2 linked regions of the Homo sapiens genome follow. The protein of the gene in region 1 interacts with the protein of each later gene in a biochemical or structural test. Each region holds a gene or a part of one and is shown on either strand. Other genes may lie near its edges.

Region 1 (5,877 bases):
AAACAGGTGGTATTTGGTTACATGAGTAAGTACTTTCGTGGTTATTTGTGAGAGTTTGGTACACCCATCACCCAAGCAGTATATGCTGCACCCAACTTGGAGATGTTCTTCTGAGGACCTCAAATAAGGGAAGAAGAAGTCATGAGATGTGGGCACTGTGGTCTGGAGCCAACCACTCACCTTTCCCTCCTCTGCTTTTTCGCTTTTTTTTTTTTTTTTTTTTTTTGAGACATGGTCTCGTTCTGTCACCCAGGCTGGAGTGCAGCGGTGTGATCTCAGCTCACTGCAGCCTTGATCTCCCCAGGCTCAGGTCATTCTCCTATCTCATCCTTTCAAGTAGCTGAGACTACAGTTACTCCCCAGCATGCCTGGCTACTTTTTGTATTTTTTTTTGTAGAAAAGATATTTCACCTTGTTTCCCAGGCTGGTCTCGAACTCCTCCCTTCAAGTGATCTGCCTGCCCTGGCCTCCCAAAGTGTTGGGATTACAGGCATGAGCCACCGTGCCCGGCCTGCTTCTTCATCTTTGAGATTAGGCAGCTGGACTGGTCAGCAGTTTCAGTTCTCATACAAAGTACTATGAGAAGTTTGTCAAATATTTCTAATATTTCAGAAACTTCTTAGAAATGATCCATTTTCCCCAAATATGCTGCAGAGGGCTGACCAACATATCATGTTTGCTGTTTTGGGGCCCAAATAAGCTACTGGATTATGAGCTTCTTGTGGTCATTCATGTTCATGTTTCCAGGGCTTATCATAGGGTCTGACCCAATGAGTAATTCGGGTAATGTTTTCCAAACTAAGCTATAGAAAACCAGTATGAAGAGACAACTCATTTCATGCTCATTGGAAGCTCATGTGTTTCACATCAAGCTCAGGCATTGTTTGTAGCAGTATTAGATTCCCACAAATATTAAAGGATATTCAAAATAGAGACCAGGTGGCCGCAACCCTAAACTTGGCTTGTTAGAGCTCCTATGGACCATAGCCCACTGTACTTATTCACAAATCTGTGTGGTTTCAATTATTTATGATTTTCTGCTAAAACTGGATGTGGTTCCTTTGGTCCTGTAAGATCCATTTGGGTCACTGACAGGACCCTGCTGCGCCCATGTGTGCAGTGTGTTTATTGGCAGTACAAAATTCAGCAGTACGTCAGGGATCACATCTTAACAGACGGCCTAGGCTGGGGGAGGCGTTCTGTGGGCCACAGGGGAGAACTTGAGATAATGCCAGGAACCTTCAATGTTTTGAAAAGGGCTCACTTCCTCAGAATTATCAGTCTGCATTTTGTGGTATCTTGTTCAGTCCTGTATGTTTTTAAAGGGAGCAGATTGAAGACCTCTCCCACAGTGTTGGCCCATCAGAGGGCAAGAGAAAAGAGATGCGGCCTGCTGTTCCCAAAGGGAAATGACTCAGCAGGGCACTGGTTTCCTTCAAACTCTCCTTATTATCTCTTTGCTTGTGAGATTGTCTAATTCAGTGGCTGCCCTTTTAAAATCTGAACTCCAGGGTCAGACACATGAAGAGGCAAGAGAACAGACCAAACCTTTATTAGTTCACAGAACTCCAATTCTTTATTAATCACAGCTTGCTCACAATGACATACAGGAAAATAGCACTAATGAAGAGTAAATATGCAGGCAGCAACCTTCAGGAGTTGGGAGTTGGGGAGAAACGACTTCAAAACTGCGATAGGTACTTATGGTGGGTATCTGGTGATTCTTAGTTGGCACAAATGCCCTGCCTAGCCCCCTTAACTGCGTCAGCTTCACAGATGGAGTGTTTTGTTGTTGGTGTTGTTAGTAGGCAGGATTGCCTTACACTGGGGAAGAAAGACCAGCTTGAGTGAAAGTCCGCAGTGTTTTTGATTTTGTTTGTATGTGTGTTTTAATGCAACAACCAGCTCACAGTTTCCAAGTGGAAAAATATTCAGTAGCATCATGTACTTGTACTATAGGTAAGAGCTTAAAATGAACATCATCAATCATGGCATCCACAAATAAGCCACCTGACACATTAATTAATTCATTCCATCAAAAGAACTTAAACTAGAGAATTAAGCCCACTTTATGAAGAGCGATTTCACGGCTGCTTGAACCATTCGAATTTGGATTTGTGTTCAGCACTTTAAAAGGTTCAACTTTTTGCTTCTACCCAGATTGGTCTCAGGTCTGTCTTCTCATCCATCCCTTTCTAAAGCCAAAGCACATTTGTAGCACATAATCCAGGAGAAGCAGAAGTAAATGCTATGACTGGTGGTATTTCTTAGCCTGGTTTTGTAGTTTTTAGGCAGTAAGTAGATTATGAGCGAACAAATGTGAAGGTTCATGTGGAGTCATAATACCTGTGATCTAGGTATGGTCTTAGTCAAGCTCAGAGACAACAAAGCCTTCTAGGTCATTAGGCAATGGTGGGTTTCTAGCACCATAGACTGTCTACTGACCTCATTTTTCTTTTGGAATGGAGTTAGACATGGGGAGCTTCAAAAAGAACAGACCTAGCAAATTCATTTGAGTGGAAAGACACAACATCAAAAGCCTGTTACAGGACATGTAAGATTATGAAATAACTTGCATAATGCAATACTTGTATTTTTTAACAAAAATGTAAGTATTTACAAAATAAGATCCAAGGTATTTTTTAAACATCAAGCAAAACATTCTGCAAAGAGACCGCATTGATTTTTTTTAATTTTTGATTTTTTTTGTTTTTTTTTTTTTATAATGAGTTCTTTTTAAACCATGTCATACATTCCCCATCCTGATATCGCATGATCCATTATAATATAGGCAGGGGGATTTACTATTGGTGGGGCGTGCCAGACCCTCCCTTGCTTCAGCCAGACAGTTCAACCTGGAGTTCCTTGTTCCTGCGCACCTCCGCAGCATGCCTCTCCTAAAAAACACAAAAGGAAGAAGAAATGTCACAGGCCCTTTTTGTCTGGTCCTTTGCGTACCATGCGCTTGACTAGAAGTAACCCAGTTTGGTGTCTACTTTTATGAATTTTTCCCATTTCAGAAGGAAAATATGGGCCCTGCAAAATGTCATGTTAGAAAAGATCTTACAAGACTTACTGTGTTTTAAAAAATATATTTAACACTGTTTTTGTTTAAAACTATGACCAAAAGTTCATGTTATTAAGATAGTTTTGAATATTAGGATCAGAGTATAAATCCAGAGAAAGGTAATAAAACATCACATTATTGTTTCTCTATCATTTCTAATGATGTCGTTCCTTTTGACTAATATTTTAAGGACTTTATAATCCTGATGGACACTCTGGGAGGGCTAGATCCAGGACGAAGACTTTCTATACTGCTTCTTAAACTCTTGACCTGTTTGTCAAGGCCCTTCATAATTGCAGTCCAAGTGACGTTTCCAGTCATAACCCCCATCTTTTCCTACACACACTTGATGTTTCAGTTTAATGGAATTGTCTTGTCATGCAATTTTCAATGCTAGTCTTTCATCTCCACTGGTCAGGATTATAAACTTACTCTTTAAGCCCTATGACCATTGTCCTTTTCTCCATAAAGATTTTTATGAGACTGCAAAGACTAACCTGCAAACTTATCTCACTTTCCATTTGAACACCTGCATAAATCTTTCCTTTTATTCGGCAGTCATTTTATTCTAGTTGTATTATGAGCCTCTCTGTTCTTGTCTCCTCTATTATATTTGACTGTAAGCTCATTGAGGGCCTGGACTATGTTTTATCATTTTTTTTTCCATTTGCAGGGCCTAGCAGAGTGCTTTGCAGATAGCATGTAATTGGTGGATGTTTATTTACATAAGGAACCAAGGTACTAGCCTGGGATTGGGAACTGAACTTCCTGAGGAGGGAACTGATGGAGGAAGTATTTTTTAGTATGTGGCTATACATCAGATGACTAAAATCAGTATTTTTTAGTATGTGGCTATACATCAGATGACTAAAATCAAACTGTCTTGCATATATCATAGGCGCTAAATAAATGTTCATTGAATTGAAATTTTAAGATGCTAATTATTAGTAGTATTATTTATATTTCTGTAGAATGTTGCTTACATTGCTTCTCTCCTTCCCTCTGAAGCTCCAGAAATTGAGACTCTATAGATTCTTTTAGTTCAGAAGAAATAAACTTGACCAGCTATAAAGTAAAACTTATCGTTAAACTCTATTAATCTCAAGGAGTCTACACTTATAGGGTTCTTTATATCATAATACTGAATATTTATTAGGCACTTAATGTGTACCAGACCTGCATCAGTACACGTTTTACCTGTATTAATTCCCTTAATCCTCACAATAATCTTATAGTGGACATTCTATTATTGTCCCCATTTTGCAGATGAAGAAACTGAAACACAGGAAGGGTAAGTAACTTGCCCATCTTCATGATACTAACAAGTGGGATTTAAACCCAGGGAACCTGGCTCTACAGCTCACTCTCTTAATCACTGCTATACAATTTCAATGTTGAGTGAGGAGAACATTTTATAGTTGCATGGAAAAATGTGTCTTTTCAAGTGTAGATTCTGGGAGAAAAAAGGCATAGACCACCCTATACTTCCTTCAAAGATACAGAGTTGGAGTAAGCAGGAAGTTGACTCTAGAGAAAGAGATTAAAAACAATTTTATTTAATTGGTTTAAATGAGCTTTTGTATATGTTCAAAAACCATGAAGAGAAGGAAAGAGGCATGCATAGAGAAATCAAATCCTGTTTGGAAATGTCACAGGGGAAATTAGCATGGATGCAGCTGATTCTTCTTTTTGTTCTGCTATTATAAGGAAAAAGATGAAGCAAAATCTTTTTCTCATGCAGAAAGAAACTAATTAGTGAGAGCTGAGCTCTGGCAAAAATTGAGAAAAAGCCCAGACCATCACTATGCTAGGAAAAAGAAGCCTCAAGTCTAAAGATTCATATAAATTCAAACTGATAACATAGCAGGAAACATTATAATTAGTATTATTAGGCTACTTTGGAGTACACTTCTTGTTAAACTCAAAATTAGTGTTAACAAAATGGATTTTGCCATAGGAAAGAATAAATATAATTTGTGAGCTTGAGATAATGTGGAAAAAGAGAAAATAAATGATTATGAGTTTCTAATTAAAAATTATTTGTTTTCAGGCATTTTAGTCACTCTATTATTTGAACACTTTACGTTCACATTATCGAATATTTACTCATGAACTGTTAATGTGACTTTATATCAAAATGTGGGAGAACAAAAGGCAGTCATGCAGGAAGCATGTAATTTCCCATACAGTCTGTTTTTCTTATCAGCTCACTGTTTGCAATTACTAGACCTTGAATCTAGAGGTTCCTAAAGCAGTTGTGATACTCAGAGAAGGTTCATCAAGAAGACTACTCTTTGATAATATTTATTTCATTATTGATCTCCTGATATTTGCTAGGCACTGTCAGAGGCCCAAGCATATCTAAATTTACAATGTTTTCTGCAATTTACCCCCTTCCTCCCATCAATATAAAGGAAATGTAATACAATATTTTAGCATTGTATGCAGCTATGCCTTTTATATGAAAAAAGATGTATGAAAGTTGATTTTAGGAAAAATTCTGGTCCTCTAATTCTTTCCTCTGATTTCATAGAAAGATTTCTCTACTGGAAGGTAAGAAATATGAGGTCTTTCCTTTCTTTACTTTTTAATGTCCCTTTAATCTCACTAGGTATCAAATATAAACAAGGACTTGGACTATATGACCTAGGATGTCAATTCCATCTATGGAATTCTGTCATATGAGCCTAATTAAATTCAAGATGAGGTCAGTATCATCAAAAATCCTTCTTTTTACTAATGACTATGCACTTGCAATATAAAAAAGGGGTCAGGAGTGAGTTGTGTGAGCTAAGAAAGCACATGTTCAT
Region 2 (7,000 bases), about 26 Mb from region 1:
ATTGGATATTACTAAATTACAGTTAGAGAAAGTATGTGTTCTGTTGAAACATACAAGGCAAAGAAAAGAAAGAGGTTAGTATTTCTGTTAGTTTAGTGAGGTAAAAAAAACGTGTGATTTCACCTTTCTTCCCAGGTTGGAAGATCTGCTCTGAGTTCGTGGGAAGCTATTGTGGGCCTCTGATCTTCCTGGTTTCTAACAGTGAGACTGCAAAAAAAAGACATTCACATGTTGACAGCTCAGTCCCTGCCAAGAAAAGATTTTTTACAAATACTTTAAAGAGAACTTCAGATCCCCAAGTATTAATAGAATTTCTTCCTCTACTTGGAAAAAAAAATGACCCCAGTTAGTTTTCCCAAGCAAACCAAAAGTGTGACAATAAGGTACTAGAAATATAAATAAACGTTGTGGTTTCTACTATTGAGAAAGAGTTAGAAATTATTGTGTTCAATTATACTTAGAATAATGATTTTTTAAATAAAAACATTCATTAGAAAATAGTAAAAAAGGGTTCGGCGCGGTGGCTCATGCCTGTAACCCCAGCACTTTGGGAGGCCAAGGCAGGAGGATCACTTGAGGCCAGGAGTTTAAGACCAGCCTGGGCATCATAGCGAGACCCTGTCTCTATTTAATACAAAAATTAAAAAAATGAAAATAGTAAAAAAGTAAGACTGTCAGGAATGTATTGGGGTTTCATTTCATTTTCTGCATCTTAAAAAGTATACATCCTCTAGGCTTTGTTTCCAGTCAAAATGGAGGCTTCATATATTTATAGGCAAATATACAAAAGTAGTAGAGAAAAATAAAGTGCATAATCAAAATCTATTGTATTTCTCTAAAGAGTTTGTTTTCTTATACACATTCTGTACATTTGTCTGTAAACTTATTCCAAGTATTTTTGTTGTTATCGTAAATGGAATTTGTACTTTTATCTCATCTTGTAACTGGTTATTGTTGTAATATGAATGCTATTTTTTTTTTTTTGGAGACCAAGTCTTGCTCTGCTGCCCAGGCTGCAGTGCTGTGGCGCAATCTCAGCTCACTGCAACCAAGCGATTCTTGTGCCTCAGTCTCCTGAGTAGCTGGGACTACAGGCATGTGCCAACACGCCCGGCTACTTTTTGTATTTGGTTTCACCATGTTGGCCAGGCTGGTTTCAAACTCCTAACCTCAAGTGATCCACCCACCTGGACCTCCCAAAGTGCTGGGATTACAGGCATGAGCCACCGTGCCCGGCCACTTTCTTAATCACTTTATTGAGCTATCATTCATATGCCGTCAAGTTTATCTGTTTAAAGTGTACAATTCAGTGGTTTTTAGTATACTCACAAAGTTGTGCAACCATCCCTACTATCTAATTCCAGAACATTGTCATCACCCCCAAAAGAAACCCCACCAGTAAGCAGTCACTGCTTATCACCTGTATCTCCCCACTCTACCGGCCCTAGGCAAGCACGAATCCGCTTCCTGTCTCTATAGATTTGCCTGTTGTGGAGCATACCGTATGTGATCTTTGCTGGCTGTCTCCTTTCACTTGGCGTAATGTTTTTGCACTTAGCCCATGCCGTAGCATGTATCGGCACTTCATTTCTTTTTCCAGTTGAATAATATCTCATTGTTTGGATAGACACATCACATTTCGTTTGTCCATTCATCAGCAGATAGACATTCGGGTTGTTTCCACATTTTGGCTGCATGAATCATGCTGCTATGCACATTCCTGTGCAAGTACGTGCGAACATATATTTGTGTTTCTCTCAAGTAGAAACCTCGGAGTAGAACTGCTGAGTCATATGGTAACTTGAGTTTTAACATTTTGAGGAACTCCCAAACTGTTTTACAAGGCAATTGCACCATTTCACATGGTAATATTTGAGGGATCCAATTTCTCCATGTCCTTGCCAACAGTTACTGTTGTCTTTTTTATTCTAGCTTCATAAGTGGGTGAGAAGTGGTATTTCATTGTGGTTTTGATTTGCATCTTGCTAATGACTACTGATGTGGAACATCTTTTCATGCATTTACTAGCTATTTGTACATCTTTGGAGAGATGTGTGTTCAGATGTTTTGACCATTTCTAAATTGATTTATTTGCATTTTATTATTGAAATGGAAGTGTTCTTCATTTTAAGACCTGAAGCCTACAGAGTATTATTTTAATGATAATTTTATATCCTTCTTATTTCTGAATTCTTCTGTATTTGTATCAGTTATAGCTATAATTCTCTTCGGGTTTCATCTGCAAATAGGAAGAATTTTACCTATTTCCAATTCTCAGGCCTCTAATTTTCTTGTCTAATTAGCTAACACCTAAAATACTTTTTTTTTTTTTTTGAGACGGGGTCTTGCTCTGTCTCCCAGGCTGGAGTGCAATGGCGTGATCTCAGCTCCCTACAACCTCCGCCTCCCGGGTTTAAGTGATTCTCCTCCCTCAGCCTCCTGAGTAGCTGGGACTACAGGCGCGCACCACCACACCCAGCTAATTTTTGTATTTTTAGTAGAGACGGGGTTTCACTATGTTGGTCCTGCTGGTCTTGAATTGCTGACCTTGTGATCTGCCCGCCTCGGCCTCCCAAAGTGTTGGGATTACAGGCGTGAGCCATCGCGCCTGGCCAAATACATTGTTAAATAGTAGTAGAGATTGTGGACATTTTGCCTTATTCATGATTTTTGCAGGAATGCTTTCAGCATCCCATCAACATGAAAATGGATTTTATCACTGACAATTTGGGTTTTCTTTATCTTGTTGCTACTGTATTTTCTATATTCTTTATTATATCTTTTCTTAACACTATTTTATAAAAGTTTTTCAGCCTGTTTTTAGCACAACTGTTTTATAAATTTTCAGTGTGTGTGTGTGTGTGTGTGTGTGTGTAGCTCTATTTTTCTTTAAAGGCAAAATCATTAGAAATGCAGGAACCCTTTTGACTTCTTTCTTTCATGATGTCAGGGCTAAATAGTTTCAGTAAATAATGGCTTCTTTAAAAAAAAATCCAACCAAAAAAAACTTGAGAGGCATCTGAGTGGTACGCTCTCTGCATGACTTCCGAGGCTTCTTTTGTAAGCAAAACACATTACTGCTCAGTGGGTATGAAAAAGCAGAGGAAAAAAGAGATGAATTTGACAGGAGTTCCTCAGAGAACCAGAAGCTGTACTGCAAACTAAATAATGCAAACTTATTTCAGCTTTGATATACTTTTTCCCTCATTTCAAGTAAGAATGTTTTAAAGAGACAATGTGGTTTTGAAAAAGAGAAGAATTTTTTTTTGTGAAGTTTTCTTTACCTCGGTCCACTGTTATTGTTACAGCAGACCTAGAAGATGTCTATAGTAGCCAAGATAGTTGCTCGCTGTGTTTTAGGAAGTTTCAGTAAAAGAAGACCCATGGCCAGATATATTTTGGTAAAATTTTGAGTGATAAAGAGAAAACTTACTAGAAAGGAAAAAAACTTTATATTCAACTGAACAAGAATCAGCATGCCTTCCCTTATAACACTAAATACCAGAAGGCCTTACAGCAAAATGTTGAGAAAGATTCACAAGTACTTAGAAAAGAAATTGCCATTTACTTTTCTTGAAAATTGACTTGACTATGTATATTAATATGGATAAATCTCAAAAGTGTGGTGAAAAAAAACAAGGAAATTCACTATTAAAACAGTTGAAGTTTGCTGTGTACTTTTCCCCATCTCATTTCTTCCTCTCTTTACCCTAGAGAGAGCCACCATTTTTAACTTACTGTTTACCATTCCAATTCATAATTATGCTACTATATTATATTCATAAACATATTTTTAAACATAGTATAAATGTAATTATGTAACATGTATTGCTTTATAATTTTTTTTCCCTCTAGCATATGAATTTATTTATTTCTGAGACAAGGTCTCACTCTGTTGCCCAGGCTGGAGTGCAGTAGCATGATCATAGCTCACTGCAGCCTTGAACTCCTGGGTTCAAGTGATCCTTCCACCTCAGCTTCTAGAGTAGCTGGGACTACAGGCACATGCCACCATGCCGGGCTAACTTTTTTTTTTTTTTTTTTTAGTGGAGACATGGTCTCGCTGTGTTGCCCCAGCTGGTCTCGAACTCCTGGGCTCAAACAATCCTTCTGCCTTGGCCTCCCAAAGTGCTGGGATTACAGGCATAAGCCACCACGCCTAACTTATTTATTTGTTTAGTTTTGTTTTTCTAGTATATGAATTTAAGTGCTGTATGGTAGTGGATTGTATAACTATACCACAATATATTCATCCATTCTCCTGTCTATACCCTTTAGAACCATTTTAAATTTTTCTCACTCAGATGAATGCTGTAGTGAATCTTCTCATACATGTCTCCTTTTTTTGCAGGGGTGTGAGAAGTTTTTCCAGGGTATAGGTTTTTCTTTTCTTTTTTTTTTGTTTTTGTTTTTCAGACAGAGTCTCACTCTGTTACACACACTGGAGTGCAATGGCACAATCATCATTCACTGCAGCCTCAACCTCCCTGGGCTCAAGCGATCCTCCCACCTCAGCCTCCTGAGTAGCTGGGACTACAGGTGTGCGCCACCATGCCTGGCTAATTTTTGTGTTTTATTTTTTATTTATTTATTTTTTTGAGATGGAGTTTTGCTCTTGTTGCCCAGGCTGAAGTGCAATGGTGCAATCTCGGCTCACCGAAACCTCTGCCTCCCAGGTTCAAGCGATTCTCCTGCCTCAGCCTCCTGAGTAGCTGGGATTATGGGCATGTGCCCCCATGCCTGACTAATTTTGTATTTTTAGTAGAAACGAGTTTTCTCCATGTTGGTAGGGCTGGTCTCGAACTCCCGACCTCATGTGATCTGCCGGCCTCGGCCTCCCAAAGTGCTGGGATTACAGGCGTGAGCCACCGCACCCAGCTGATCTTTTTTTTAAGGTGGGAATTGATTTTTGTATATGGTGCTATGTAGGAATATAAATACATTTTTATATATTTGGATACCAAGCAGGATGACCAATTTTCCTGGTTTGCCTAGGGTTTTCAGGTTTTCTGGGCTATGGGACCTTTCAGTGCTAAAACTGAGAAAGTCCTATCAGTGGGGATGAGTTGGTACCCAAATACCAAGTATCCTGCTATTTACTGAATAGTTCATTTTCTCCTTTGCTGATGTCACTTTTATCACGTGTTGGTAAGGTTTTCTAGATTTATTGTCTTTCACTGATGTTAAAACTATAGGGTGTATTTTTGGACTAATTATGAATAACATTACTTTTGAAAGAAAATTTTCTTTTAATAATTTTTTCTAAGAAAGTCTGAATTATTTGATTGTATGTCATTGACATGAGATTGTTTACAGCTTTGGTTTCACACTTTTTAACACAAAATTCATTGCCACATTTTATATCAATATTTGACCCCGTTGTATCTATGATTGTTACTTGTTTCCTGAGTCTTTCCTCTGGGTTCCCTTTTTTTCCTCTGAAGTAGGCCCTTTCTTCGGTTCTTTTAGGTTTGCAGGCAGTAAACTCGGTTGGCCTTCGTATGTCTGAGAATGTCTTATTTTACCCACACTCTTGAATTATGGTTTGACGGAGTTTTCAGTTACTTTTCTCCAGCACTTTGAAGATATTGCTCTATTGTCTCTTCTACACACACCTAAGTACTACAGAAGTGTTGGCTATGATGGTGATGATAGTGTCTTAGGTACAGATACTTATTTTATTCGTCCTACTTGTTACCTGTAGGAGGAGCCTGCTCTGGGACCTGACCCGCCCTCTAGCCTTACACTATCCCGGGACAATACGTTGTTCAGGTCAGCATGTCAGCCGCCTCCCACACCCTGCGTGAGGCAGCAGAGAAAGGAGGGAGCGGAAGGTTTGAACGTCAGCTGGAGTCTCACCTGCACCTGGACATCCTGCACATCTCTAGGAGGATGGTCTCATTTCCCCACTGAGACCTACTGGCAGAGTGAGAATATAGGCCCCTAAATGCAGTCTGGCCATCACTGGTGTCTTCCTCCTTTAGGGCAGGCCCTGGACACCCACGTGTTTCCTCTGCCCACCACCAGCGCCTCTCCTCTGGCTTCCTGCAGAGCTGTCCAGATTCCTACCAGGGGCTGAAGTCTCACCTTGACACTGCCTAGCTCTTGTCAGCCCCATGGCCACGTTTCCTCTTGCTGTGGGAATGAAGAGACCATCGGTATCGGGATCCCCTTGGTGGATGTTCTATTGCTGTGTCCCTTCCACCAGATTGGAACTTCTTGGAAATGAATACTAGCCTGAGTTGGGCAGGAGCCACCAAACTTCCCCGGGCATTTCATTTTCAACTCCACTCTCCTCCCCAGGGATCAGTTCTGTTAGTTCCATTTCACGGTTCGTGATCAGTCCATTATCAGTTTTTCTTCTCTTCCAGCAGACAGTGAGGTCTTGGTCTAACTTACTGCCAAGCCTACATAAATTTAGGATGATTTGATTGCTGAAAGTGGTTCACAAACTTGGCTGGCACTAAGCACTTTTCATATCCAAGATTCCAAAGATGTAACCTAAAGTTCCCATGATTTTTAGGTGTAAATTATCTCCTTTTCTCCAGACCTTTAACAGCTACTCAAAGGGTCACAGATGTTTTACATTCAAGTCGTTTCTTTCCTTTTTAAAGCAATGACTGTCTGTGTGTCTTCCTCTACCCAGTAAGTTAGCATATATTTTAATATTTCTCTCTCTTTAAAACACATATTTTGACATTTCTCTTTATTACAAAACAAAATTTATGAAATGGAAGCAGCAGAAGGTAAAATCCAGGCTCCCTCTACTTCATCGCCCTAACCTTTAAGACCTATCTTAGATCCTAAGCCTTCATTACCACAGGAGTGCCTCGAGTCCAATTCTTTCTAACCATTTCTGCCCAAATGTTGATAGTCAATCGTGAACCGCCTGAGGTTGTTCTTTAGTTGTTTAACACACGTTGGCCTGATTTGAGGGATCTGAGCATAAACCCCTTGAGAGCTAGACAGATGCAGCCTGTTGTTATTTCTTGGGTGTCCC

What was found.
Region 2: the proteins of STMN2 (region 1) and RGS20 form a complex in vitro, tested with the Homo sapiens proteins (one study listed by BioGRID).

What each region holds. Positions count from the first base shown.
Region 1 is NC_000008.11:79,661,835-79,667,711, reverse strand, and holds the end of STMN2 (stathmin-2), read right to left. Parts: intron 4,133-5,877; coding exon of another isoform or gene 4,051-4,132; intron 2,898-4,050; coding exon 2,838-2,897; 3' UTR 1,554-2,837; downstream 1-1,553. UniProt on the Homo sapiens protein: Regulator of microtubule stability. When phosphorylated by MAPK8, stabilizes microtubules and consequently controls neurite length in cortical neurons.
Region 2 is NC_000008.11:53,939,872-53,946,871, reverse strand, and holds part of RGS20 (regulator of G-protein signaling 20), read right to left. Parts: intron 208-7,000; coding exon 124-207; intron 1-123. UniProt on the Homo sapiens protein: Inhibits signal transduction by increasing the GTPase activity of G protein alpha subunits thereby driving them into their inactive GDP-bound form.